4 linked regions of the Homo sapiens genome follow. The protein of the gene in region 1 interacts with the protein of each later gene in a pairwise test. Each region holds a gene or a part of one and is shown on either strand. Other genes may lie near its edges. The genes, in order: SDCBP, HSF2BP, TNKS and PTS.

The links.
Region 2: the proteins of SDCBP (region 1) and HSF2BP interact in binary tests that used the Homo sapiens proteins (3 or more experiments, as listed by UniProt).
Region 3: the proteins of SDCBP (region 1) and TNKS interact in binary tests that used the Homo sapiens proteins (3 or more experiments, as listed by UniProt).
Region 4: the proteins of SDCBP (region 1) and PTS interact in binary tests that used the Homo sapiens proteins (3 or more experiments, as listed by UniProt).

Annotation. Positions count from the first base shown.
Region 1 is NC_000008.11:58,563,239-58,570,260, forward strand, and holds part of SDCBP (syntenin-1), read left to right. Parts: intron 1-1,780; coding exon of another isoform or gene 1,781-1,795; coding exon 1,796-1,846; intron 1,847-7,022. UniProt on the Homo sapiens protein: Multifunctional adapter protein involved in diverse array of functions including trafficking of transmembrane proteins, neuro and immunomodulation, exosome biogenesis, and tumorigenesis.
Region 2 is NC_000021.9:43,656,487-43,664,172, reverse strand, and holds the start of HSF2BP (heat shock factor 2-binding protein), read left to right. Parts: upstream 1-4,684; 5' UTR 4,685-4,787; exon of another isoform or gene 4,788-5,852; 5' UTR 5,853-6,076; coding exon 6,077-6,112; intron 6,113-7,435; coding exon 7,436-7,586; intron 7,587-7,686. Other genes in the region: RRP1B (ribosomal RNA processing protein 1 homolog B), read right to left, coding at 4,379-4,508. UniProt on the Homo sapiens protein: Meiotic recombination factor component of recombination bridges involved in meiotic double-strand break repair.
Region 3 is NC_000008.11:9,551,291-9,558,911, reverse strand, and holds the start of TNKS (poly [ADP-ribose] polymerase tankyrase-1), read right to left. Parts: upstream 3,001-7,621; 5' UTR 2,973-3,000; coding exon 2,300-2,972; intron 1-2,299.
Region 4 is NC_000011.10:112,221,666-112,229,442, forward strand, and holds the start of PTS (6-pyruvoyl tetrahydrobiopterin synthase), read left to right. Parts: upstream 1-4,762; 5' UTR 4,763-4,778; coding exon 4,779-4,861; intron 4,862-6,928; coding exon 6,929-7,008; intron 7,009-7,777. UniProt on the Homo sapiens protein: Involved in the biosynthesis of tetrahydrobiopterin, an essential cofactor of aromatic amino acid hydroxylases. Catalyzes the transformation of 7,8-dihydroneopterin triphosphate into 6-pyruvoyl tetrahydropterin.

The sequences.
Region 1 (7,022 bases):
ATTATTCTGCTATGAAAATGAATGAAATACTGATACATGCTCCAACACAGATGAACCTTGAACATATGCTATGTGAAAGAAGCCAGATGCAGAAGGCCACATATTCTAAGATTCTAGATTAAGTATCCAGAGCAGGTAAAAACAGAGGCGGGAAAGTGTATGTTGCCTGGAGCTGGAAGGAGGGTAGAATGGGGAGGCATGAGTTTTCTTTTGGGGAGGATGGAAATATTCAAAGATAGGTAGTGGAGATGATTGTAGAAGTCTGTGAATATACTAAAAACCATTGCATTATATACTTTGAAAGGCTGAATTTTAGAGTGTGTGAATTAAATTTAAAAAAAAAACTATCTCATACTGTCCAACTAGGAGACAGAGACCATATAGTGATTTTAACAGTGGAGGTTTAATACACAGAATTACTAGTTATAACATGATTGAAGAAATAGAAATTGACTTGTAAGAAGTAAAGACAACTTTTAAGAATACTGTAAGAGCAGACTTAATAAGTAGCCACTAACTCTAGGGCTGTTCCCATACTGGGGCTGAGATTCAGGTCTGGTTGAAGAGGGGACAGATGTCACTGGCAGATGCTGAAGTTGCCGGATACCATGCTTCTGGAACTTATTCTCCCTCTGGCATTCTGAACCTTGGAATTTGCTGCAGAAGCCACGTGAAGGGGTTGAGAAAGCTGCTCAGGGAGATTCCTTGGTGGTGGCATTCTGCTGCAGAGTTACTCAATAGAGTGCTGGGGTGAGCTTCTGCATGCTTGTGAAACTACTCCTGGCAGGAGTCTGGCTAGAGTAGTACGTTGGAACCATGAAGAGAAAAGCTCTTCCTCCTACAGTGTACCTCCAGTTGCCTCTACTGACAAGGCTTAACATCATGCCAGCTGGTAACAGAGCAATGTTGAAAGAGCTCAGCTCCATTTTGGGAGAGAAAGCAATAAGAAGTGGATTTGGAAATGGGAGGTAATAAATTGATACCTGAATCAAGAATCTTACGTTAAACCACATACCAGTTTAGCATATATTCTGTTTTATTGGGTTGAGTGAAAGTATCAGGTATTCATCTCAAAACAGCTAAATAAAATTTAAAATATGCATTCATATAATACATTTAGAGAATTGTGTTTTAAATTATTACAAAAAGCAATTTATAACTAAAAAACATACTTCTACTTAATACAGAAGTATTTTAAATGAAAAGTAAAAATTTCCCTCTTATTCCTCACTCCTTTACCATCTGTCTTCTGAAGAAAAATCTGTTAGCAGTTGATATAGTTTCTTCTGTATACATATATGTGTGTATATATTTTTCTTAGTAATAGAGGTTCATGTATTGATACTGCATATGATCTGCTTTTAGGCTTTTATTGTTAGAAGGAAATGTAGCTGTGTAATGCCCAAGGGCATTGTACTAAGGGTAGTTTCCTAGTCCTGGCTAAGTTGCAAGTACTTGTGTAAGTTAGGAGTAAGTCACATAACTATTCTATTTGATTTTCTAAATTTGTAAAATGAAGGGACTTTTACTTGAATTTTAAAAATCGGTGATGGATATAGTTCAATAATACTATTAGGGGAAGGAGAGGTAGTTTGGTAATTCTTAAGTATCAGCTAACTTTTAGTATGGCCTATATATTCTTATTTTTTAATATGTTTTGCAATTTAAATGTTTTTTATTGAGTTAAATAGTTCTACTTGTTTATGTGTCTGTGGTTAGCTGTGTATACTATTTCAATTTCTATGACATTAGAGTAATAAAACTTTCTTTTTTTCTTTAGAAGAATCCTGCAAAAATGTCTCTCTATCCATCTCTCGAAGACTTGAAGGTAGACAAAGTAATTCAGGTATGATAGTTTAAATACTTTTGTCAAAACAAACACAGTAACATGCATTCTACTTATAGGTGAAATAAAGCAAGATAGCTAAATAGCAGATATATTTGTTCATTTTTACACTTCATAAACCTTTTTTTAGTTTTATTAATTGCAGACTGAAAAGTTTACAGAAAAATTAGCAATTTTTTTTTTCATTTCACTGTGAATTAATAGGCATGAGATTTTTTTAATTCGACTTACACTTTTTACATTTCTGGTTAAAATTTAATTATATGTAACATATTTGAGTTGACAAAATATACTCCAATTTTGTAGATATTCATAGTTTTGTATAAAATTGGTATATTTTTCTTTTGGATCTTTAGGTATGACCACTCTTTAATTCTATGTCTCTTAACTGAAGTTAAAATTACAGAAATAGTGGCGTACATGCTGCTTTTAGAAGAGCAGTCATGTAAGAGCACAGGGAAAGTGTAGTGATTTCTTTCCTTTGAGAGATGAGCAGCAGACATTTCACTTGTTCATTCTCTAAATGACTGTGTAGAGATTGCAGTATTTCTAATTGCATTGAGTTGAAAATTTTTATACTCCTTTGTATAAGTATTAGCTTTGAAGACAAATGCTTCTGCTTAAGAACAAAGTGAGGAATTGGGACCAATTCTGGCTAATTGGGAAATTTTTGGTAATTATTTTAATTGGGGGTAATTTGTAGTATATGATGAATTTGTTTACGGTTAGCTTTCAACTTGATCTCTTATCAATTTAGAATTTCTTCAGCCGTTGTTTATTGTTTTAATTTGACAAGATAAACGAAAACTCCTTACCCTGAAGATCATTTTATTGGGTCCCTGTCTTCAATTTACTAGAAAGTGAGATATTCAATTTACTTACTGATAATTGAATTATGAACAATTATTTTCTATCATAGATCCAGTATGGATATTAAAATGAGGTTTGTAAAATCTCTAAAATCTACAGTTCAGCTGCCAAGGCTTTGATGCCTCAAAGTTTCAAGTGGCCTATTCAGTCATCTTTTACATGTTCCTATCACTTCTTTAGTATTTTGTCAGTATTTTCTTCATGTGGTTTTTATTTCCACATAGTTCATCTAAACAAGCACTTTTCTTTTTAAAAGGCCTTTATCTGAAATATTTAGCTTTCCAGAATAACTGCTTAGCCATTAATATGACATCAATACATTAACTGATAAGGATTTTTAGATGGACCTGTAAGAATGACTAATCTGTTCTTTGTTTTCATCCTTTTTTTGTTAGCTTTTTATGGAATTGAATGTAAATTCACCATAGTCAGATATGAGCTGAGGCTTTTGGTTTTGAAAACAGCAGCAGCAGAAGAGTTGATATTGACAAATATTGGAATGAAAAATAAAGAGGGCTACAATCTGTATCATGCTGCCCTCTTTAAGCAGAAGTGAATTACATAGATATTTACATTAAAGAACGTTTTATGTTCAGAGCAGAAAGCAGCTGGGAGATAGAACAGTGAATAAGGAGTGGGAAACATGGTTCTTTTATTACCCCTGAATTTAAAAATATTCCTAATTTAGCCATTAAACTCTTTGGCTGTTTTTGTTTTGTTTTGTTTTGTTTTTTTGCATCATTTTCTAAGGTGGATGATACTCATGTTTGTTTTTATTCTTAAGATTCTCCTGAAACGGTATTATGAAGGAAGGTAGTATTCATTTTCTCATCTGCTGGCCTTTAACACCACAGCAAAGCTAAATTACAGCAATGAACCAACCATTCATATTTTGTAAACTATTCTGCAGTAGCCACTAGGCTGTGGCTTTTAGCATCATACAGTCCCTAGACCTTTTTCTCTCCATTCCAAATCCTGACAAGAGCCTGTGGTTTCCTCTACTTATGCAAAGTAAGCTTTTAATAAATAATGATATACAGAACCAGAGCTTATCAGTTTCCTAATATGGTGGGCAGAATTTGGCAGCAGTGACGCTACAAGCATGTTTTTTCCACATCCTTTCTGTTAATGGCAGAAACAATAGGCCCTGGCATGCTCCTTGGGGCACCCCAACCCCTTTTTTTAGTAGTGTCACATTTCAAAGTAAGTTTGAAATAAGTAGCTACATTTAATGGTTTACAGTACTTAAAATTGGGTTACATCCTTTTGTTTCATTTTTACTGCAAATAACATAATTAAATTTAACTTTGCAGGGAGCTTTCTATATGTATTCTTCAGTATTCCTTGGATTAAAAACAATAGCAATGAAAGAACAGAAATTCATAACTACATACAAAGGAGAAGTATTTTAAATTAATAAGCTGTGTTTTAGAGCAATTTTAGATTCACAACAAAATTGATCAGAAAGTACAGTATACCTTCTGTCCTCACACATGCACAACCTCCCCCAGTATCAGCATCTGCACCAGAGCAGTACATCTGGCTCATTAATATCACCTGAAGTCTACATATTTACATTACATCACATTAGGGTTCACTGTTGGTGTTATATGTTCTGTGGATTTTGACAAATGTATAGTGACGTGTATATAGTCATGTGTTGCTTAAAGACGGATATGTTCTGAGAAATGCCTCATTAGACAGTTTTGTCGTGCAAACATTATAGAGTGTACTTCCACAAATGTAGATGGCATAGCCTACTACACATCTAGGCAGTATGGTATAGTCTGTTGTTCCTATGCTACAAACCTGTATGATCCCACCTGTATGATACAGTAATACTGCATGTTACTGTACTGAATACTGTAGGCAATTGTTACACAATAGTATTTGTGTATCTAAACACAGAAAAGGTATGGTAAAAATACAATGTAAAAGATTTAAAATGGTACATCTGTATAAGGCACTTACCATGAATGGAGCTTCCAGGACTAGAAGTTGCGCTGGGTAAGTCAGTGAGTGAGCGGTGAGTGAATGTGAGGCCTAGGACATTATTGTATACTGCTGTAGACTTTATCAATACTCTATACTTGGGCTGCACTAAATTTATTTAAAAATTTTTCTTTCTCGAATTATAAATTAACCTTAGCTTCCTGTAACTTTAATTTTTTAACTTTCTGACTCTTGTAATAACATAGTTTAAAACACAAACATTGTACAGCTGTATAAAATATTTTCTTTCTTTATATCCTGATTCTATAAGCTTTTTTCCTATTTTTTAAATTTTTAGTTTTTAAAAATCGCTTGTAAGTTTGTTAAAAACTGAGACACACACTCACATTAGCCTAGGCCTGCACAGGGTCAGGATCATCAATATCACTGTCTTCCACCTCCACATCATCCCACTGAAAGGTCTTCAGAGGCAGTAACATGCATGGAGTTGTCATTTCCAATGGTAATAGTGCCTTCTGGAATACCTCCTGAAGGACCTGCCTGAGACTGTTTTACAGTTAACTTTTTTTGTAAGTAGAAGGATATACTCTAAAGGGTATAACACAGGAAATACATAAATGAGTAACATAGTCATTTATTATTATCAAGTATTATGTACCATGCATAATTGTAGATGCTATACTTTTTTATATATGACTGGCAGTGCAGTAAGCTTATTTACACCACCATCACCACAAAGTAATGAGTTGTTCTGTGTGACGGCAGCTATGATGTCACTAGACAGTAGGAATTTTTTAGCTCTTTTATAATCTCATGGGACCACTATTGTATATGTGGTTCATCATTGACCAGAACAGGCAGCACATGACTGTATACCATTGTAGCATTAGACAGAATAGGTTCACTGCTCGAAAAATTCTTTAATGCCTGTTCTTCCTTCCCTTCTAGAAACTCCTGGCAACCAATAATTTGCTTTTGCTTTTGTGTTTTCTTTAGCGTCAGGATGTCGCTCTGTTGCCCAGGCTGGAGTACAGTGGCACAGTCATGGTTCACTGCAGCGTCCATCCTCCTGCCACAGCCTTCTAAGTAGCTGGGACTACAGGCATGCACCACCACACCTAGCTAGTTTAAAAAGAAAATTTTTTTTTCCCCCAAAACGGAGTCTGGCTCTGTCACCAGGCTGGAGTGCAGTGGTGCGATCTTGGCTCACTGCAACCTCCTCCTCCTGGGTTCAAGCAATTCTCCCTGCCTCAGCCTCCCGGGTAGCTGGAATTAACAGGCATCCACCACCATGCCCGGCTAATTTTTGTATGTTTACTAGAGACAGGGTTTTGCCATGTTGGCCATGACAAACATGACAACATGCCATGTTGGTCAGTTGAACTCCTGACTTCAGGTGATCTGCCCACCTCAGCCTACCAAAGTGCTGGGATTACAGGCATGAGCCACTGTGCCTGGCCAAAACAATTTTTTGCATAGGCAGGGTTTTCCTATGTTGCCCAGGCTGGTCTTGAACTCCAGGCCTCAAGCAACTCTCCAGCTTCAGCTTCCCAAAGTGCTGGGATTAAAGGCCTCAGCCACTGTGCCTGGCCTAATATTTTATTATCTCCACAATTTTGCATTTTTCAAAATGTCGTATAGTTGGAATCATAAAGTATGTAGCCTTTTGAGATTGGCTTCTTTCACTTAGTAATATCCACTTAAGTTTCCTCCATGTCTTTTCATGTCTTTATAGTTCTTTTTTTTTTCCCAGTGCCGCACAGTATTTTTTTTGTTAGACATGATTCAAGAAGTAATATAACAAGCCACTAGCTCCTTTTAGCTAATCGGTGGTGAAAGAACTTTCAAAGTTCAACACATGTTCAATTTGTGGATTGTTATTTATAATTATAAAGATTTTCATGCTGTATTTTGTTTAAATCTAGAATGTTTAACAAATTATGAAATAATAAATATTAAAGGATGACTCAACAAGTATATCAGAACATATAATTTTAGTACCATTCAAAGCTTTCATAGGCTTTACTTATTTAAACTAAGCTTTCATATCTCCAAGCATCTTTGGGAATACTCTTGACATTGATTTTAGGGCTAGGTTGAGATACTACTATGAACTTCATTTTTAAAATGATACATTTCCAATAAAGTAAAAAGTTGGTAGAGATTGGTCATACAACTTATTACCAAACTTGTCTCTAATGACATATAGCTATTTCAGAAAGTCAGATCTAATTGTAAAGGATAAAGTATTTCCATCAGTGAGATACTTCATATGATGTAGGCCATCAAGACAGCCCTGAGAAGAGGATACTTGAGCATGAGTAGCATTGATAAATGCTAGAGTGTCAGAGTG
Region 2 (7,686 bases), on another chromosome or scaffold:
GCCACTGCGCCCGGCCCATTTTGTTCCCTTTTAAAACATCTATTTTCCATTTATGTCTGTGTGTGTGTGTTCACCTAGGAATCTAATAAAAACAAGCCACCAATTTTTGAAGTATTCAAAGTAAAAGAGAGAAATGCTCATTACTGAATTACTTTCAAAGCTCTGAAAGGCAAAGTACATTATCTGAAGCAGTTTGGTTTCATCAGTCTTGTCTTCTCTATTTTCTTCTTGGGGCTAAATTTCTTAAACTTAATACTACTGTTTTTACAACAATACAATATAGGTTTATTTATTTCAAAATGAATGAGGTAGGCCAGGTACAGTGGCTCACTTCTGTAATCCCAGCACTTTGGGAGACCGAGGTGGGCAGATCACCTGAGGTCAGGAGTTCAAGACCAGCCTGGCCATCATAGAGTGAAACCCTGTCTCTACTAAAAAAATACAAAAATTAGCTGGGCATGGTGGTGCATGCCTGTAGTCCCAGCTACTTGGGAAGCTGAGGCAGGATAATCGCTTGAACCTGGGAGGTGGAGGTTGCAGTGAGCCGAGATTGTGCCACTGCACTCCAGCCTGGGCGACAGAGCAAGTCTCTGTCTCTCAAAAAAACAAAAACAAAGGCTGGGCACGGTGTGGCTCACACCTGTAATCCCAGCACTTTGAGAGGCCTAGGCGGGCGGATCATGAGGTCAGGAGCTCAAGACCAGCCTGGCCAACATGGTGAAACACCGTCTCTACTAAAAACACAAAAATTAGCCAGGCGTGGTGGTGGGCGCTCGCTACTCGGGAGGGTGAGGCGGGAGAATTGCTTGAAACTGGAAGGTGGAGGTTGCAGTTAGCAGAGATCGCGCTGTTGCACTTCAGCCTGGGTGAAAGAGTGAAACTCTGTCTCAAAAAACAAAAACACACAAAACAAACGAGGTAAACATCAAAGTGAGACATGTAGACATGTGAAATATTAGTAAGTTTTGAAATGAGCAAATCCAACAGCCACTCTCACCACGCAATGAGCCCAGAAGCCATTTTAGATGGGGGTAAAGTGTTAAACTTGAACACACCCCAGTGTCAGAACATCCACAACTTCTATTTATTATAACTCTTGGATAGAGAGAACCCTAACCCCATCATTATAAAAAAACTTATATCCTCCATCATCTACACTGAATCTAATATAGCATCAACCATAAGATGTACTGTTATTTTGTATGCTGCCAAAAAGAAAGCAATGATACAAATGAAATTGTCACTGGGTTGATTTTGGGATGCCTCCCCATTTTAGTCAATATTTTTAAAGTTGCAGAACTGATAAGATAGGCAGGGATGGTCTGTTTTGTTCACTGCTATATTCCCAGTGCCAAGAATAGCGTACATAATAGTACACAGTTGGCACTCCATAAATGTTTGCTAAATATATGAATGAATGAATGAATTGGGACAAATAAGCTCTTATGGATGAAAGCCATGGAGAGTGATCATTTTATGACTGTGAGCACCCAACTTGAACAGTTAAAGCAAGAGCGCAACACTGTTACTTAAAGCAATACAAAGATTTCCAATTTATTTTTAAAATGACAAAGCTATCTATTGATGTTGCTGCAGAACAGCTCATGTTTCAGGAAGAGTGATAGCTCACATTTCCTTTATGATGCCTAAGACAAGATGCAGAAAAGTTGGAGCCTGTCATCGGGAGTCGAATGTCAGGCCAAGTTATTTCCAAACTTGTGCTGTAATTGTGATGGGGCATAGCTGTGGTGGAGACCTTGTGTTTTCTTGTCCCATTATCACTGTCCACGACGTTCATGCTGCGGAGTTATTTTCTGAAGGTCCACTGTACTCCATGCAATGTGGTGGTGAACAAGATATACAAGACAAGTCACTCTGGGTGTGATAGGCACTAACCAGACAGGACTCTGGAGCACTGGTGTAAACTGGTCTTAGGCCCCCGCATAACCTCTGCATTTGCAAATCCTGGGCTGGCTCACCAAAGGGTTTGAGCAAAAGGCTCTGTCTAGGCTGTCTTAGCACCGTAAGTATTGCCTCTGGTCTTCCACTCTTGTACAGGCCAAGACCTTTTACGGTTGCATGTACTCCCACTTCTGGCTAAGAAAACAGATGGAAGCTTACGGTGTTTCGGGAGAAGGATGACACATTGATAATTAAGAAGCAATGTAGCTAAGTGCTACAACAGAGACACAATGGATGTTTTAGAACCCTGGAGGAGTAGGGCAAGATGCTAGGCGAGGCTTTTTGAAGGAAGTGATACTGAACTGAATGCTGGCAGTGAAGAAGGTGTGGGATTCTTTGCAGAGTGAACAGGAGAAGCAAAGGCAGAGAGGTGAGAAATTGTGTGCTGTACACCAAGAACCATCACCGATTCTGTTGACGGAACATGAAGCAGTTACACGGGGCTTAGGCAGGAAGAGCACCTGAGGACAGATCATGACTTGCAGACACTGAATTTCAAAAAATATTGGTGATGTGGGATCAGATTTGTTTTAGGAAGATGACCCTGGGCTGGTCTGTGGAGGACAGATTCCTGGGGACACAAGTGAAGTTAAGGAGACCAGTTGGGGAATATGCGGGCGCAGAAGTTTCGGTGAGATACAAAGAGCCCACGGTCAAGAATTTATGTCATCAGGAGGTGAACGAGGGAGGACGGGGGTCCTCCCACTGGATGTGGGCCAGGGGAAGAGGATGAGGAATTCAGAGGAGTCCAGGACAATCCCGTGTGTCCGGCTGGAATCTGAATGGCTGGTGGGAACCAGCAACCAAAAGAAAAGAAAACAGGTGGCAGTGGAGCAGCAGCAGAGAACAGGATTTCGGGGAAAGAAAACAGAACTTTTTTTGGCATCCTGAGTGTGAGGTGCCAGGTAGAGAAGCCAGGCTAGCAAGGCACATCCGAGCTGCAAGTAGGAATGGGCTGGGACAACAATTTAGGTTTAGAAACCACCAGCATATATGGGGTACCTGGAACTGTGAGACTAAACAAAATCTCTTGGGGAGATTCTTAACAGAATCAAAGTCAGGAATTTTGGTCTTTATTCCTTTTTCTATCAGACTTCCCAGGAAAGTGTATTTTCTTTTTTTGGGTAGTCTGGTGATTTCTCTTAAAAATAAAACAAACTGAGAATGTCAGTGATGGGGGAGATAATATCTGTTCTTTTAAGCAGATTCTAAATGTATTAGTACCATCAGTAACTAAATAAAACTTTATCTTAAAACCTCTATTACACATTGTAGTTCATATTGTATGGGCTCACTCAAGAGTTTATAGAAAGTATTTTTGGATCAGGTAAATGAAATCATCCAACAGCAGTGCCGTTAAAATCTAAACTACAAAGCCCTGTGTGATCTGGCCACTGCCTACATCTCCAACTTCATCTCATAACACTCGCCCCCCCAACCCCAACTTATTGGTCTTTCAAACCACTCCTAGGGCACGTGAAGCTCTTTCCTGCCTCTGCATAGGCGGTTTCCGCTCATTTCTCTTCAGATCTGAGCTGATTATCAGCCCAGAGAGGCCTTCCCAGAACAGCCTATCAAGAAGAGCAACCTCCTTCCCTTTTTGCTATTATCTGGTTTTCTTTTTCCTTTTTTCTTTTCTTTTCTTTTTGAGACGGAGTTTCGCTCTTGTTGCCCAGGCCGGAGTGCAATGCTGCGATCTCGGCTCACCGCAACCTCCGCCTCCCAGGTTCAAGCGATTCTCCTGCCTCAGCCTCCCGAGTACTGAGATTACAGGCATGCGCCACCATGCCCGGCTAATTCTGTATTTTTAGTAGAGCCGGGGTTTCACCATGTTGGTCCGGCTGGTCTCGAACTCCCGACCTCAGGTGATCCGCCCGCCTCGGCTTCCCAGAGTGCTGGGATTACATGCGTGAGACACCGCGCCCGGCCTGCTACCTGGTTTTCATTTCCTTTACTACACTTACACAAGGTCTACTTTATTTGCCTGTTTGCCTCCTTGCTTTATTACTAATAGATCCTCGAGGGTAGTGATTTTGTCTGTCTTCTCTCCTGCAGCCCCGTCACGTAAAGGTGCTGGTCAAAGGAAGGCGGCAATCACCGACCGGACACCAGGGCAAATCAGGGCAGCCCAGTGATTCGAGATGCCGGCTGGGGAATCGGACCCATGTGGGTCTTTTCTCAGCTTCCCCGCTTACTGTGACTTTCATAAGTAACGGAACCCCCTCAACCCGTTTCCTTAAGTGTAAAAAGGCACTAGACACAGCAAGAAGCGGTTCCGGCAGCGCGGAAACCGAAGCACACGCTGGGTGTCACGACAACACGTGGAAGCCGCATTCCGTGCCGGGGCCCTGGCCCTAGCCCCAGCCCCGGCCCCCGGCCCGCCATGTGGCGCGGCTGACCGCGGCCGTGCGCCCACCTGTCTCCCTCTGCGTCTTCACGCTGATGTACTGGCGCAGCTTCTTCACCGCTCGGTCCCGGATGCCCTTCTCGCTGGACGCCAGCCGCTGGGCAAATTGGATCTCGGCCGGCTGCATGGCGGGGGCCATCGCGCCCGCTGGAGCATCCCCGGCCGCGCAACCCGCGGTGCCGCTGCAGCCAGCCGAGCGCTGCGGAGCAGCCAGCCACCGTCCGCCCGGGCCGCGACTGCACAGAAGGCGGCGGCGGCGGCGCGCGGGCTGATGGCGTCACAAAGGCGCCGCGGCTCGCAGCGCGCTCTGGGAGTGAGCGCGGCAGTGGCCCTGGCAGCTGGCGGAGCGGCCCAGCCCGTGTGCACGTGGCGCCGGCGCTGCCTTTCGGTTGCCAAAATTCAGGCTGTAGACGGCGAGGTTAGCCAGGGTTAGGACTTGACCAGGAAGAGACGGAAGGCTGTTTGTAAACGGTCTAGGATTTTTTGTTTGTTTTTGAGACAGGGTCTCCCTCTGTCGCCCAGGCTGGAATGCAGTGGCGCGATCTTGGCGGTGATCCTGGCTCACTGCAGCCTCGACCTCCCAGACTCGATCGATCCTCCCATCTCGACCGCCCAAGTAGCTGAGACTACAGGCGCGCGCCATCACGCCCCACTATTTGTTATTTTTTTGTAGAGACGGTGTCTCGCTATGTTGCCCAAGCTGGTCTCAAACTCCTGGGCTCAAGCAATCCTCCCGCGGCGGCCTCCCTGATCGCTGGGATTACAGGCTTGAGCCGCCGCGCCTGGCCACGGTCCAGGATCTTTAATCCCATTTAGCACACCTCGTTGAGCCAGCAGCTTACCTGCGATCTCCGTGGCGTGGAGTTTTTAACTGTGGAGCCCCCGGGCCCCCGGGTGGAGTTGAGACTGGAAGGAAAGGCCGGCACTGGGGCCTGTTGAGCGGGTGGAGGGCTCGCCTTCCTCCAGTGCCTGCAGAGGCTTGGGCAGATCGGTGCGCCCCTACCCCGGAGCCCTGGTGCCAGTGCAAGGGCGCCCGCGCAGGCGTCCCGAGGCCTGGCGAGCACGCGCGCTTCCAGGGGAGTTGGGCAGGGCGGGCTGCTTGCTAATTCCAGAGAGGGAAGAAATCTTAGCTTTGGGTTCATCTAAAACCCGAGGCCATCCTATATTTTGCGGACTCAGCGGGCGTGCTGGGGCAAGTTAATGGACTAGGTCACTCCACACGTAGCGGGGGTTATCTCAGTTGCTCCGCTCAGTTGTCTAGGCGACCTCCCGAGGTGCCTGTTGACACAAAAATTCAACCCTTAACGTAAAAGCGCCTGAATCCGAGCGAGGGAAGGCGCGCGGAGGCGAGGTTTCCAGCAAAGACTGCCCATTTGAACGCAGTCCCCCTTAGTGTAGCATTCCTCGCCAAACAGGAAAGGACCCATCCGATTTATTTTACTTGACACTTACATCAGGGGCTGACTTTCCTTCTGCTTTGCAGATAACAAGTTTAAAACCCCGGCTAAGCCAGAAGAGCCAAAGAGGGACCTCGCCAAGGCCACTCCTCGCTCTCTAGGCCGAGAATACTGCGCAAATTCTGGGAGGTTTGGGCCTGGCGGCTCTCCGTTCCCGACCCCCGGCGTGGATTCGTTCCCGCGCTTTCTGGCGTGAGGGGTCAGAGGGCGCGCCGACGCTCAGGCGAACGGAGCGGAGGCGGCAGCGGCCATGGGCGAAGCGGGCGCCGCTGAGGAGGCCTGCCGGGTTAGTGAGGAAGCCCTGGCCGACGCCAGCGTGTTTGAACCGTCGCCATTCGCTCCCCTCAGGGCCTCGCCCCGTGCGCTCGGAGACGGCTCGCTGTCGCGTGCTTGGGGGAAGCCTGGAGACTTCCTCCCCTAACGGCGTGGGCTGGGCCGGAGCGGGGTGGAGACCTGGGGCGGGAGGCGACTTCGCCTCCAAACCCACGCGGGGACCCGGTCTGTGAGGCTGCGCGTGGTGGGGGCACTCAGTGGCGCCAAAGCGGGCATGGGAGCGTGGGATGGATGGTCACTCTCTTCTCTGCTCCGTGGAAGCCCAGTTCCCCTCCGAAGGCCCTGGCCCCCTGCTTCGGGACTTAGCGTCAGGCTTAGAGAGAATCTGCCCTCCATCGATTTTATAACTGTAACTGATTGCATGCGATGGAGAAGGCGCTTGGACTGGGGCCAGATCCGTGTTCACATCCTGCTTCCACCCGTTATTAATTGTGCTGCATTGAGAGTCATCTAGCTCCCGTGCCTTAATTTCCATCTAGACAATCTTGGAGGCTTGGGGTGAATAGTAGATGAGATCACGGGCGGAGGGCTTGGCAAACCCAGTAGGAAACCAGATGACTTCCTTTTCCTCCTGATTAGTTTGGTGCTGCAGTGATAAAAAGTTGCAGGCGTTTTCTTTGACTTTTAGGAATAGAGCTCTTGTATGACTTTTCTTTTTCGTGGTCTTGCTCTGTTGCCCAGACTGGAGTGCAGTGGCACGATCATAGCTCACTGCAGCCTCCAACTCCTGAGCTCAAGCCTTCTTCCCGTGTCAGCCTGCTGCGTACAGGCGCCGGCCACCACACCTGGCTAATTTTTGTATTTTTAGTGAGATGGAGTTTCACCATACTGGTCAGGCTGGTCTTGAACTCCTGACCTCAGGTGATCCACCCGCCTCGGCCTCCCAAAGTGCTGGGATTACAGGCGTGAGCCACTGCGCCGGGCCTCCTGGGCACGTTTTCATATTTTTGTAGTGACAGGGTCTCTCCATGTTGCTCAGACTGGTCTTGAACTCCTGGCCTCCCAAATTCCTGGGATTTCAAGTGTGAGCCACCATGCCTGGCCTGTTTGTCCTTATTATTTTTAACATCTGGCTCCCTTTTTGAAGGCTGAAGCTTCAGCTTTCAAAATGTTTGTATGTACATAAAATATATCTATAGCAGAATATACAGTAGGTAGAGACATGATTTGAAACAACGATGCACATAAGAGGTGTGAAAGAAAAGCAAGTTAACTTGAGCTGTTGTTTTTTTTCTCATGTGAAGAGAAATATAATAAGATCTGCTTGTTCTTTTAGCACATGGGAACTAAAGAGGAATTTGTTAAAGTCAGAAAGAAGGATCTGGAACGGCTGACAACTGAAGTGATGCAAATACGGGACTTCTTACCCAGAATACTAAATGGGGAGGTGCTGGAGAGCTTCCAGAAATTAAAGATTGTAGAAAAAAGTGAGTCTTCATTTTCAGCAGTCATTGGTGGTAACAGTAATTTGTTCTAGCAGATTTACCCTAGGTAAATAATTGTAAACGAATTTTAAGGTACTCTTAC
Region 3 (7,621 bases), about 49 Mb from region 1:
TGATAAAGAAGACTAAAGTTTAATAAAACTTTAATGTTACGAATTCAATCACGGAAGCGTGGCAAACTGACTACAGGACATTATGTTTTCATATCGAGAATTTTATTACTGTGTTTTCCACAACTGAGCTAAAAACTTTCTTAAAAAGCCAATTCAAGGTTAGCTTGTCATAACTACAACATAATTACGGTACTGTTTGATTGTTTATCTTCTAGCTTATCTGGATATACATAAAACTCTGAAACAGAATAACAAGTAACTATTGTGGCAAATAGAAGACACGTGATTTGAGAAACAAGCACTATTTTGTGTGACTTATCCTAAATACATTAATACACATAAATATAACTATCATTTATTGGTGATTACGCATAAAGTGGGATGGTGAGAAATGACATGATTTGTGACGCAATTTGTTAAAATAGGCAAACTTGGAATAAAGTATGCAAAAGTAGACACCTCTGTTGATTAATAAAATCAGACTTAGGCCTTTCATTTAGCCTAAGGAAAAAGAAATGCTATTTCATCTAAAACAAGCAAGACCCTTGAGCAAACAAATAGGCAAAAGTCTGTTTCTGATTCAATTCACTGCATTCCTAATAAGTAGTGTCTGTATATCAATAATGAATCCAGTGACCTAACAATGATTTCCTTTAAGTGTTTCTCATACCACTGGTCACGACCCATTAATGGATCACAAGCAGCATTTGCTAAAAATGAAACAGAATAAAATATAAAATATCAGAGGACAACACATGTATTAAGGGAAAGTATTGTTTCCAGAAACTTTTGATTCAGTTGCGTATGTGACAATGTAAAATGTATTTCTAAGTATGGGCTACAATAAAAAACATGTGAAAGCTACTCTCTTGCATATAAGCCCCTCCGCATTACTACTTCTCCCAAAAATTGGGAACTCTACACTTCAATTACTCACAAAAATGAAAAGTGACCTTAATCCAGGGTTCTGACAGTTTAAGTTTGATTTCACAAGCTCTAAAATCAAACTGCCTGAATTCAAACTCAATTTCCACTATTTCCTGACTGAATTTGGACTTATTTAAGCGATCGATATATGCTTCACTTTTGTCATCTGTAAAATGGTTAATCATATCTCCCAAGTGTGGTAAAAATAAATACTACAGTGGGTCAACACATGTTTTACTGTTAACAGAACAAACTGAAGAAGTGATATATATATATATTAGAAATATAGGAGAAACTTAACAGAAGTTATCTCTGGTGTGTTATCTCTGATGTTTCTGTGTGATGCCTTTCATTTTGTATTTTTCTGTCCTATTTGAATTGTATAACGTACAATATATGTATTTCCAATATAATGTTTCTAATGTATAAAACATTATTACCTACATTTTTAAAATATCAACAATAGGTATCCAGGCAGTGAGATTATGGTCCTTTGTTTTTATTTTACAGTTCTCTTTATTTTATAAACATATTATTAGGTGTCTTTGAGAGAAAATCATCAACTACTTGCAAAAAAAAAAAAAAAGACAAGTGTGGGGTCCAGAGCTTAAGAAATTCACACTTTTTGAGGGAGAACTTTGTGCCAGATACTTCTCACCAAATGCTCGCACAACATCATTTTATGATTTTTGCCCATGAGAAAACTGAGGCAACTGACACGAGGTAAATGGTCTGCTAGACAACAAATAATAGTGGCCACAACATCAAAGCCTATATTTCTTCCATCATCATATAATGCATCCAAATATTCTTCTCCAGTTGTTTCACATTGGCATATTTTGGTCTCCCCGTCTAGACTGCAAACTTCTTTAGAAGAAGGGAAACTTTCAAACACTTCATTTATGTCTTTCATTGGGTTATTAAGGCTACAATAGATCCTCAAACATGTGTTGGGTTGTATTAAACCTCTTTTGGTCTGGACTGTCCTCAAAGGACATACCCTTGTAAAAACAAAATAAACTAGCACACAAACGACAAAACTACTCTAAAGCTGTCCAAATCTAACTGTATTCCTGCACACCAAAAACTAAAGTGTAAATATATCCATATGCAGAGACTACCAACTACAGTGAGTTTTGTAATGAGTACTGTGCAACCACTGAAGAATTCCTTGGATTCACTTATCCCCCCCAACCACGCCCCCATCACCCAGGCACCACCAAAAGAAAGGAACCTCCAGTCTTCTGGTGAGGTGATGAAGAACCATAACCACGCCCCCACTTTGTCCCATCACAATAACCTGTTTTCTTGTCCTAACCGGACCCTGCACCCAAACCCATAACCCTTAATAAACAATTCAAAAGTCTCTGACCTGCAGCGAAGTGCAGGGGAGAAGACTTCCGGCCGGCCATGTCCTTTGCATTTACGTTTGCCGCGTCCACCAGCCTCTTTACCCGGGACACGTCCCCATTGCGACAGGCCTCCAGCAGTTCCCGTAGGGCCCCGCTCACTGCTGGGACCCCTGTCCCAGGTCCTGCTGCCCCAGGCCCCAGTGGTGCTGTGCTGCTAACTCCGGCCGCCTCGGGGCTCTCCGCCAAGCTCGATCCAGGGGAGGATGGAGAGGAAGATGAGGAAGAAGTCGGGGAAGAAGAGGACGACGGTGAATTGTTACTGCCACTGCCGGCTGGGTTGGGAGCGACCCCAGCGGCAGATGAAGTAGAAACCGCTGGGACCACGGGAGCGGCGGCGACGGTACAGATTGTGCTGGTGGTACTGCAACAGCTGGTACCGTCAACCGGGTCCGGGGATCGGGGCCTGTCGGGCGGATCCCGACTGCCATCCCCCTCCGGCAGCGCTAGGCCGTGCCGCGGGGAGGCGAAGGGGGCCAGGCCGCTGGCCGTGGGAGAGGCTGGGGTGGTCCCCGGGGCCAGGCCAGGGCTGAGTGGGGGAGGAGGTGGCGGCGGCGGCGCTGAAGCCCCTGGGGCGGGCTGGAGCTGTTGTTGATGATGGTGGTGATGATGCTGAGAGCGACGCGACGCCGCCATCTTCGGACTCCCCTAGCACTGTCACTGCGGCAACGGCCCCCACCGCCCGCCCTCACTTCCGACTGTCGGACCAATCAGCATCCAGCGCACAGGAAATGATGCTAGGCGGGGTAGCAGGGGCCAAAGAGAAGGAGGGAAGTATTGGGAGCTCAGAGAACAGCCAAGGGAACGGGGCGGGGCTTTGTCACTGAGAGGCGGGCTTTGTGACGTGGTGGCGGGCCGGCTGGAGAGATTTGAATGCTGGAACCAGCTTCTGCCTAGATGGGAAACATTTCCTGCATTTCTCACTTTCAGTCGGCTTTCTTTGCCCTGCTCCGCTCTGTTTCCCTTAGTCTCCCTTTGCTTGCTCCAGAGCCAGCTGTTGAGATGCAGATCAGAGCAAGCAGGGAATGTGTCCGTTATCATCTATTAAGCGTCCTTGTCTGAAAAATGGAACTTATAGTACCAACCTCACAGAATTATTAGCGGGATTAAAAGAGCTAACAGACAAAGCGCTCTGCCAGTAAAACACAAGTATAATTAGCCCGTTGGTAATTTTTTAAATTATAGTATTTCTTTTCCAGGTGTCCCCTTGAGCTCTTGTCCCTTCCCTATAATTTTTCTCACCCTATGTGCTTTAATTCCTCGTTTTTAAATGCTGGTTCAGATTGCTAGGATTGGCGTTCCAGCTCTGCCATTTGTTGTTTATATATGTACTTGCTATTTCATCACTCTATGCCTGTTTTTCTCTGTAAAATTGAAATAACAATAGTGCAATAAGTGTGAATTATTAAAATTATGATTTTTTTTTCCTATTCTGCTCTCTCTGAAATTTTATTTTTCACCCTAAGTGTAACTAATTATGAATATATTCCTTTCTTTTGAATTCTGGCTTAGCTTAGCCTCTCCCACACCCGAAACAGATAAAAACCTGATTGCTAGGCTGGTCACGGTGGCTCATGCCTGTAATCCTAGCACTTTGGGAGGCCGAGGCCGGCGGGCCACTTGAGCCCGGGAGTTCAAGATCAGCCTGGCCATCACGGCGAAGCTCCATCTCTACAAAAAATACACAGATTAGCTGGGCAAAGTGGCACATGCGTGTAGTCCCAGCTACTCAGGAGTCTGTTGGGAGGATCACTTGAGCCCGGGAGGCAGAGGTTGCTGTGAGCCGAGGTCACACCACTGCACTCCAGCCTGGGTGACAGAGGGCGGAGACCCTGTCACAAAAACAACAAGAAAACATAACAAAAACCTGATTGCTGTCCATTACTCACCATCAGGTGCTATTTTTCAGCAACTGCTTTTTCTGTCTTTCCCCCAACCTATGTATACTTTTGTTTTTCTACTATCAAAAGATGTATCCATGAATGAGATAATCCCATTGAGGACTCCATTTCATACCTACTGTTCAATAGTAAAGCAGGCATTGTAGAAGTATACAGAAACAGCATTATTCCAATAGAGTGGACACAGATGGAAATTCTGTAAGAGAAACAAGATTTAGATGAGTCAAGCAGAATATTAAACTAGGTGATAAATTGTTTCATGTGTTCATTGTTAAATATGATTTATGTGATGTTAATATTCCCATTTAAGTAAATAGATGAGTTTATTTGGGGTTAGTAAGTAAATACAATAAGGTCAGGAACATAATTAGTATTACGAGTGGCATTTATTTTCATCTAATCTGGGGTTACAGATTATAATTCTTAACATTATCCAGCTGTGTGATGAAATGTGCCATTGTTCGCAGTAGACACCGGACAAAAAGTGTAGCTGGATAGGAAAACTCACATCAGTGCAACTAAAATCAGTCCACAACATTCTTCTTCATGCTTCTGTTTTTTAATCTTAACTTCTTGATGTACAGCAGAGAACCATTGAGAAGTGGGAGTGATCCAACATGATATGTTAGATATCCATAACACACCATGTGTCCCCTAAATAATGGCCTCCTGGAATGGGAGGCATAAGAAATATCTCATCTGGTCTCCCAGTGGTCAGTTACTCATAGAAAGTAGTGATGTTCAGACTTATTCAAAATGCATCTGTTGTGTCTATCAGTACAAAAAATAATAATAACAATAAAATAAGGAAGTCTCTGCTGGACAGAGATTTTTAAAAACTAAATTGCCGGCCAGGCCCAGTAGCTCACACCTGTAATCCCAGCACTTTGGGAGGCCAAGGTGGGCAGATCACGAGGTCAGGAGTTCCAGACCAGCCTGGCCAACATGAGGAAACCCCATCTCTACTAAAAATACAAAAATTAGTTGGGCGTGGTGGTGCGCGCCTGTAATCCCAGCTACTGCGGAGGCTGAGGCAGGAGGATGGCTTGAACCCAGGAGGCAGAGGTTGCAGTGAGCCGAAATCGTGCCACTGCACTCCAGCCTGGGTGGCAGAGCAACATTGTCTCAGCAAAACAAACAAACAAACAAAAAACAAAAAACTAAATTGCCTGAAACTGGACTGGAAAACCATGTCTGGAAATGCATTCAATCAACTGGAAATTGCTTTCTTCCCCTCGAGCAGAAAGTAGGAAAAGTACTTAACATTAAGTATTTATGAAGTTTGGGTTTATACCGACTAATGTTGAGCTCCAAACATGAAAGGACACATGCTATTACCTAATCTTCTGTGGCTAAACACAATTCCAGGAGGAATGCACTATATCATAGTGGAAAGAGCAAAGCTTGGGGTCAAACAAACCTGGGCTTGAAAGTCACATCTCTGATGATTACTAGTTGGCTAATCTTGATAGGTATGCTTCAGCTCTCTCAGCCTAAAATGTTGACCTTAGTTTAGCACTGTCATGAGGATTAAAAGCCTAGGTGTTTTTTAAGCACTCTTTGAATGTTAGATCCGTTCTCTTACATGGCATGCATAAAGTGTTAACATGAACTCACAGCCACTATTGATAGCTTTCCCCTCGCAACTTCCTTTGTGACAAAGATAGGGGCTGGGAATAAATATCCATCGTTTTACACAGAATGGGAATCTAAAGCAAAGAAACATTAGGTTTAATTCTTTCCTTATCTGATAATTCAGGATTCTTTATAAACTCTGTCTCTAAACTATTGTTGATCACAGGTGTGTAGTATCTTATTTTCATAAGCGTTTTCACAAAAACAATATCCTGGCCGAGTACAGTGGCTCACACTTATAATCCCAGCATTTTGGGAAGCTGAGGCAGGAGAATGCTTGATCCCAAAAAATCAAGATCAAAGATCAGCCTGGGCAACAAAGTGAGACCCTGTCTACACACACACACACACACACACACACACACAAAGTATACCCAAGTACTACAAAAATGGGAGCACATAGCACTCTCTTAGGCTATACTGTTGACACAAAAGAAAAGCCACCAACTCAAAGGACACCGATCTTTTGGGCTGTGTTCTGATGTTTGCTTTCTTACCCTATGGGGTTCGCATGGACACTCTGAAAATTACACAATCATGAACTTGCACAAGTTCCATATTTCAACTGGAATTGGTGTGTCATTCCATCCATATACTTCCCATTGATCTCCCACCGTATTTGGTATTCTGGTAGTATTTCTACTAAGTCTAGTTATTCTTCGATCCCCTCTGCAATGCCTCCTCCGCAAATCCACGAGCACAAGCCAGAGCTGTGGTTTGGCTGAGGCATGTCATTTCCTCATTTTTGGTCTTACCGAAACATAATAAGTTATTTTTATGTCAGAAATGTCTATGGTGCCAAGGGCCCAGATTTCTCTATAAAAGTGTTGCGTTCTCTTAGTTGAAGTTCCATCCAGAAACCCAGGTGAATATTTTTTTACAAAACCACAGATGGGCAATGATGCCAACAGCTGCAATCGTACTAACAACATTGTATCAGAAAAAGCTTTACCAAAAAAAAAACAGGTAAAACAACTTATTACAAGACAGCAAAATTACAGTAATTTAAAGATATCCTCTGTATCAGTTTCTTAGCAACTCTCCCATTAAAGTTTTAGTAGCTTTATAAGATAGCTCTTACATACCAGGGTCTTCTGGCTGCTGCTCCAAAGACATCTGTAGCCTGCACTGAGATAACTTGGATTTTTTCTGGCTATGGTCTGTACGCTCATGGGTAGTCGGTTTAATTTGAAGTGTTAGTTCCAGGCAGAGAGTTAGTTCCGGGCAGAGAGGTGGTTAAAGGTGTGGATTCCACATACAGACTGCTTGGATATGAATCCTAGCTTTGTCACTAACTAGCTTCGTATGATTAAAGGATATTACATCATACATTTTAACAGGAATAAATAAAAATCTATTTGCTGTGCTTTAAAAAAAGAAGATAAACAAGTTTTCCCACCAAAAATGTTCCTTTCCTTGTAAGCTTTTTTTCCAAAAGTAATTAAAATCATACATGTATACCCCATTACGGATTTGCATATGACTATATCACTCAAAAGAGATAAACACCTGCCCTCCCCCAAAGTCATAACCATGTTTAGAAAAGGCTCAGAAAGTCCTGAAATGCATGGATATGGAAGGGTATAACTAGCCAACAACGCATATATAATGATGTAATGGCTTATGCAGATGGATATAGCTAACCAGAATAGAGCTGATGCAACTGCAAACCAAGAGACTGCAAGGCACCCAGAGGACTCACCCTCCCCAATCAGAACATGGGGACAACCCACCAAGCCATGATGAATG
Region 4 (7,777 bases), on another chromosome or scaffold:
TTAGATGTTAAATAAACACTTTTTTTTTAACTTAATAAGTGAATGAGGACCAGAAGGTGATAGATATGGGGCCTACCTTGCCAATATATGTCCATTGGAGTACCTTATGGGATCTTTTTTTTGGTGGGGGGGCTTGGGGGTATTTATTAAGTGATGCTTTAGTCTCAGTCTCTGCCAGCAACTGGGGTGTGGGTTGACTCCACTCGCCCCAGGATTTCCCAGACTTGCTGTTTTAGTGGAGAGAGGCAGGAAGCCAACTATCCTCTAAGCCCCAGCTTGGGAAGCTAGGCTAGTACTGGGGTGGGGGCAGCAGAGCTGAGACCCTCCACCCCCACCCCCAGCCCCCAGCCTCCCAGCCTGAGGGGGAGGAGCTGAGGCAATTTTGGCCGCAGCCTCCCACACACAGCCCTGCCCTTGGTGCGCCATTCACTGCCCTGAGTTATTCATGATCTCTGCTCCCACATATTCACCTTGACACTCCAAAAGCCAGCCCCACACCCAGCCCCTTCAGGTCTTTAGTCCTGGGGAGAGCAAAAGGAGGGACAGGGGCCCTTTGACTGAGCAGCTTCAAGGGGCCTCTCCTTTCTGTTACCCACTGAATGCCAGCCCCTTGTCTTCAGCCCTCCCTTAGATAGGAAGGAGGGTGGTGGCCTCAGACTGCACCCCCTTTCTTCTTCTTCTCTTCCTGGCATCCCATTCTGTCCCAGCACAGCAGCCAAGAGCACAAAGCACAGCACCTGTGAGGCTGGTGGGCACAGGAGCCCGTGCTGGCACAGGCCAAACTGCCTGCAGCCCTAGGTGGGGCCTGCTCCTGCCCTAGAAGCTAGACAGAGGGAGACAGAAAGCAGAAGTGGGGCAATGGGATGTGCGGCCCCTGTGGCAGGAGGAGGAGCACACGAACCCTGACCCTGCTTCTTGGTGCAGGCCACTCCAGGCCTTGCTTCTGTAAGAGACTCTGTGGCTGGCTCCAGAGCTGCCCGGCCCCCATAAAGGGGGCTGAAAGGAGGATGGGTGGTCCTTGAGGAGGGGAAGGGTCTGCAGAGAATCGCTCAGACACCAGGTATTACCCAGCTATTCCCCCAAGACCTGGAGGGTCCAAACTCCTGGCCCCAACCACCTGCATCTTGGGTGAGGAAGAAGGGCCTCTTCTGCTGTTCCTTCCCCTCAGAGATCCAAGAACCCACTCCAGTGAAATGCAGGTACCCATGCCTGCCACCTGCCCCTGGAGACAGCAGGGGAGTTGAGGCAGGAAGGCTGGCCAGGGGCCCTTATGGGATCTTTTAGTAGAAGCTAGCCTTCTGAGACAACGCAGCCAAGCACAAGCCAGTAAATGTTGCAAGAGTGAAGGGAGAACTATACCTAAATGGCTGTTGATCTCAAGGCACTGAAAGCTAAGTTAAGAGGAATGTTATTTGCTTATTGGTTAGTGTGTTAGTCTGCTAGGGCTGCCATAACAAAGTACCACAGAGGTCTTAACAGAAATGAATTGTCTCACAATTCTGGAAGCTAGAAGTCTGAAATCAAAGTTGGTTTTTTCCTTCTGAGGGCTTTGAAGAAAGATCTGTTCCAGTTCTCTCTCCTGGGCTTGGAGATGGTGTTGTCTGTGTCTTCACATGATCTTCCCTCTGTATGTGTCAGTTTTTGAGTCCAAGTTTCCCCTTTCTACAAGAACATTAGTCATGTTGGATTAGGTCCCATCCTAAACACCTCATCTCAATACGTGTGCAACAATCCTATTTCCAAACAGGTTAAACTTCAACTCTGCAAATGCAGTGAAATATTTTACTAAAACAAACAAGTATTATTAATAAAAATAATTTTGCAGAAATTTCTCTTACTCTTTCACTTTATTTTGATTCTTTAAGCTGGTTTTGGAATGAGCAACTATTTGTGTAACCACTGACTGTTAGAGAGTATTTATCACTGAGGCAGTCCATACCTGGGAAATAATGTTTCTGTTCTGAGTGATCTCGCAATAGTAATTCACTTATCTGTGGCTGTATTTTCTTATCTGTAAAGTGAAAGTATTGAACTAAACAGTCTCTATCTCGAAAATCTCTAAATGTTATTTGAAGTTTTTTCTTTACAGTACAATGGGGTAGATGAGACAAACATCTGAAAATGTATGGAGAGTGTTTGCTAAATAACCTGTTAGTAGTTTAATGCAGAACAAACAGAATATATAGCTGTAAATAGGAGATATTTGAGGGAAATCACCATTTGAGCTTATTTCTATCGCCCCCATGATTTTATCTTTCTTTTTACAGGAAACTTTTCCAAGCCTGTTATTAATCAGTGACTTGTCCTGCTTTTCATCATATACAGTGATGATTTTTCTCATATAGAGTGGAGCTGTCCTCTCCAGTACCTGGAACAATGCCAGCCACATAGTAGATGCCCAATAAATATTTAGTGAAAGAGTGAATGGAAGCAAGAGGTGACATGATTCTGGGAACTGTGTGTAGTTTGGTTACTCTTGTGAGTAGATGTGAGGAAACAAGATCCTTTCACTCTCAATGTGTCTACACTGGCAGAAGAATTGCTAATATGTGTTTAGGGGTGTCTGTATTCACACTATGCCAACCCAGAGTAATAAATGGGTCCATACATGCTTGTGGATAAGAATGGCTTTAGAATTTCCCTTAGTAAGGATCATTACACAACAGTCCAAAGGACTGTTGTCACGTGGTCCTATTTGTGCTCTCAAATTCTTGCTCTTTAAAAATTTTTTTTTAAAGAAACGGTATTAATCCTAAGCAAAAAGAACAAAGCTGGAGGCATCACGCTACCTGACTTCGAACTATACTACAAGCCTACAGTAACAAAAACAGCATGGTATGGGTACCAAAACAGATATATACACCAATGGAACACAACAGAGGCCTCAGAAATAACACCACACATCTACAACCATCTGATCTTAGACAAACCTGATAAAAACAAGAAATGGGGAAAGGATTCCCTATTAAATAAATGGTGCTGGGAAAACTGGCTAGCCATATGTAGAAAGCTGAAACTGGATCCCTTCCTTACACCTTACACAAAAATTAACTCAAGATGGATTAAAGACTTAAATATCAGACCGAAAACCATAAAAACCCTAGAAGAAAGCCTAGGCAATGCCATTCAGGACATAGGCATGGGCAAGGACTTCATGACTACAACACCAAAAGCAATGGCAACAAAAGCCAAAATAGACAAAAGGGATCTAATTAAACTAAAGAGCTTCTGTACGGCAAAAGAATCTACCATCAGAGTGAACAGGCAACCTACAGAATGGGAGAAAATTTTTGCAATCTACCCATCTGACAAAGGGCTAATATCCAGAATCTACAAAGAACTTAAACAAATTTATAAGAAAAAAAATCAAACAACCCCATCAAAAAGTGGGCAAAGCATATGAACAGACACTTCTCAAAAGAAGACATTTCTGCAGCCAACAGACACATGAAAAAATGCTCATCATCACTGGCCATCAGAGAAATGCCAATCAAAACCACAATGAGATACCATTTCACACCAGTTAGAATGGCGATCATTAAAAAGTTGGGAAACAACAGATGTTGGAGAGGATGTGGAGAAATAGGAATGCTTTTACACTGTTGGTGGGAGTGTAAATGAGTTCAACCATTGTGGAAGACAGTGTGACGATTCCTCAAGGATCTAGAACTAGAAATATCATTTGACCCAGCCATCCCATTACTGGGTATATACCCAAAGGATTATAAATCATGCTACTTTAAAGACACATGCACCTGTATGTTTATTGTGGCACTATTCACAATTGCAAAGACTTGGAACCAACCCAAATGTCCATTAATGATAGACTGGATTAAGAAAATGTGGCACATGTACACCATGGAATATTATGCAGCCATAAAAACGATGAATTCATGTCCTTTGCAGGGACATGGATGAAGCTGGAAACCATCATTCTCAGCAAACTATCACAAGGACAGAAAACCAAACACTGCATGTTCTCACCCATAGGTGGGAATCAAACAATGAGAACACATGGACACAGGGTGGGGAACATCACACACCGGTGCCTGTCAGGGAGTAGGGGGCTGGGGGAGGGATAGCATTAGGAGAAATACCTAATGTAAATGACGAGTTGATGGGTGCAGCAAACCAACATAACACATGAATACCTATGTAACAAACCTGCACGTTGTGCACATGTACCCTAGAACTTAAAGTATAATAATAATTAAAAAGAAAAAAGAAAAAGAGAAACGAGGGTCTTGCTCTATTGCCCAGGTTGGACTCCTGGGCTGAAGTGATCCCTCTCCTTCTCAATAGCTGGGGCTACAGGAGTGCGTCACCACGCCCGCCTGGCTCAATTCCTGCTCCTTTTGGTCTATAAAGCGGACTGTGGCCCTGGGGTTCATCCGATTGAGTCACCAGTCACTGGAGCTTTACAGGAGAGAGTGGGAGAGGAGGCTCAGAGAGGTCACTCAGGACCCAAAGTGTGCCCAGACGGGCCCTAACTACGTGGCGTGACCTCAGGCGGGGCAAACAGATCAAGGACACAGGGTCCCCACCCACCCTGACCACTCCAGGGTATGCTTAGGTATCCCAAATCTTGCTCTCCGAAGAGATTCAGATAGCGAGAGACACCCTTAACTGTCTCCCGAGGCCGGGATTGGCCAGAGCGGAAGCGGAGACGCACTTCCTAGGGGCGCGTCTGGCACGCACTGCGCAGCCGCGGTGGGAGGAGGCACCGGCCGCGCGGCGGGAGGAGGTGCCGGCCGAGCACCGCAGACAGCGCCGGGAAGATGAGCACGGAAGGTGGTGGCCGTCGCTGCCAGGCACAAGTGTCCCGCCGCATCTCCTTCAGCGCGAGCCACCGATTGTACAGGTAGGGTGTGCACACAGGTACAGCGGCGGGCGGTGGGCGCCGGGCCCCGGAACGTCACCGGGGCGGGGCCGGCGGGCGTGCTGACGTCGGGCCCGGGAGGGGCGCGGGGGCTGCTGGGGCGACGCGCGCTGGTCGGCTTCGTGGGGCTTCGGACGGCCTCCAGCATCCTGATGGGGGCTGGAGTGTCCCCAGCCCTGGAGGGGTGGGGGAGCTTGATGGTTAACGGAGCCGACTGCGGAGGGCGATGGCCCACGTCTGGGTGCGGGGCCCACACCCGGTTCTGCGACTCGAAGAAACGTCTCTGCCCCTAGGAGTCCCTTGGTGTAGACCACAGGGTTGCTGTGAAACTCAGCAGTGTTAAACTCGCCTATGTTACACAGTACCTGGCGCGGCGTAGACACTCAGTAAATGTTAGCTAATCTTGTATGCCAGGAGCATTGGCCACCATATCTAATGTAATTACAAGGCAAATTTTAGCCCCTTTTTTACCAAAGACTGGATGAACCCAGTCCCTGGTGGTCTAGTGGCTAGGAGAAAAAAAAAAAAAAATGAGCCCAGACGTTCAGTTTCCGAAGCAGCATAGTTGGGATTTGAATCCCGATCATACATACTGCTTGCATGCACTGACGAGTTGATTTTGAGGAATTTTACCACGCACTAACCAGCTCCACCCTCTGGCCCTCCGTATCGTCGTCTGTGAAATGAGGATGACCATCGCTATCTAACAGGATTCATCCCTCCATTCGCTAAACCAGGTTTTGTTTCGTGCTTGTCAGGGCTTGTGCTAGGTAACGGATGCATCAGGGATCTTGTATGGGGTTTCCAATCTGGCCTATTTTGTGGAGGGTACACTGAGAAAATTTTGTGCAAAAGACTTTAGCACTCTAAATACAAGAAGTGGCTGAGCAGGAGAAAGTGGGGGTGTGTTATTCCATTTTGCATTGCCACAAAGGAATACTGAGACTGGTATTTTATAAAGAAAAGAGGTTTATTTGGTTCTGCAGGCTGTACAAGAAGCATGGCACCAGCATCTGCTTCTGTTGAGGCCTCAGGGACCTTCCACTCATGGTGGAAGGCGAAGGGCGAGCAAGCAGGCAACTCACAGGGCAAGTGAGGGAGCAAGAGAGAGGAGAGGAGGTGCCAGGCTTTTTTTAACAACCAGCTCGCCCATTGACTAATAGAGCGAGAACTCACTCATTGCTTCAGGGAGGGCACCAAGCCATTCATAAGGGATCCACTTCCATGAGCCAAACATCTCCCACTAGGCCCCATCTCCAACACTGGGGATCACATTTCAACATGACAATTGGAGGGGACAAACATCCAAACTACATTGGGGGGAATAATAAAGAGGATCTCAAAAAAAAGGGGTTGTATAATAAGCTTAAACACCTGAGGGTGGTAAGGTCTCATAGACGATGCGAAATTGAATGGATGGGTATAAGTATAAACATTAAGCAATTTGTTTTCTGTCTGAGACGACAGCCAAAGATTGTAATTTTAAAAATTCACCTGCTTGGAATATTCCTCAACAGATTGGTAAAGTTCTCATGAGGCAGTAGTTGAGACATAGTATAAAGCAAGATTGCTAAATAGGAGACTTACCAGGTCATGTAATTTTTTTAAATTATTTTTTCTGGATGAGTAGTTTAGCTTCTGAGAGAAATGAGATAGTAAGCCACTTTGCGGATCACCATCTATGTTTATCATTATATGCTGTTATTTCATTCAGCACTTGCCTGTTACATTGTAGGCACTCAGTAATGTTGAATTGAAAAGTGGAAGGCCCATGAGCAGATCAGTTGCTGTGGAACAAGGGGGTTGAAGTTAAGGTTTGTTTGTGCTAATTTGTATGGTACAATCTTCTAATTAGGGAATATGCCATGGTTTGTGACGTATACGTAAGTAATAAAATCAACATGATTTCTGACTCTCCCTTTGGTGAGCTAAAGTAATAAATTGGGAAACTTTTCAAAGATCAGTACAAATAATAAATATAAGGAACAGAGAAGGGGGTTTGAATGTGATACTTGTGTCATGCTGACTTTTTTTTTTTTTTTTGGTCAGTAAATTTCTAAGTGATGAAGAAAACTTGAAACTGTTTGGGAAATGCAACAATCCAAATGGCCATGGGCACAATTATAAAGGTGAGAGAAAAACTGATGACATTTCAGCCCTTCAATAAGGATGAAAGAGTATTCAGCAAATGTAGACATAAAGAATGGGAAAACTTACGGACACAGTGTGAATGCTTTGAGCCTTGAATGAGAAATTAAATGGGAGTTCAGAATGAAAGGATCTGTTGTCTTGGTTGGGTGTGTGTTAAGTTTTACCTTGCAATGTCAACTCTTACAAACAGTCCAAAACAATGAATGGTTTAAAGCATTTTTCTTTGTCCTAGAGTACACAACAAGTTTCTTTCTGATTAGGTATGGCCAAGGCTAATGTTAAAATTAGATTTTATTCTTTGAGTAAATAATGACTGACAAAAGGGGAATGTTGCCTAGGAATGTAATGTATGGCAGAAAAATAGGTTTGGTCTAAAGCTTTGCCAGCAGTGTTCGAAGAAAGTAGGTAATTTGTTCAAGGATAAGAGACTTGATTCTTTGAGGTACAGCCTGCCTTAAAAAACAGGTACATAAGTCGTAGAGTATAAAACAGTATGTGGTGTGGTGGCATAAAAAAAAACAGACAAGGTGTCAGGAGATTAGGATTACTGGTTTAGCTACAGCCTCTTCCTTAATCTATGGTATCTCAGTCTCAGTGTACTCACTTACATGTAATATCTAATGGTATTTGTACAGAACTAAAATACATAAATTCATAAAAGTTATTAATGTGTAAAGCACTGATAAAGTTTTTTTTTGTTGTTGTTGTTTTTTTTTTTGAGATGGAGTTCCACTCTTTTTGCCCAGG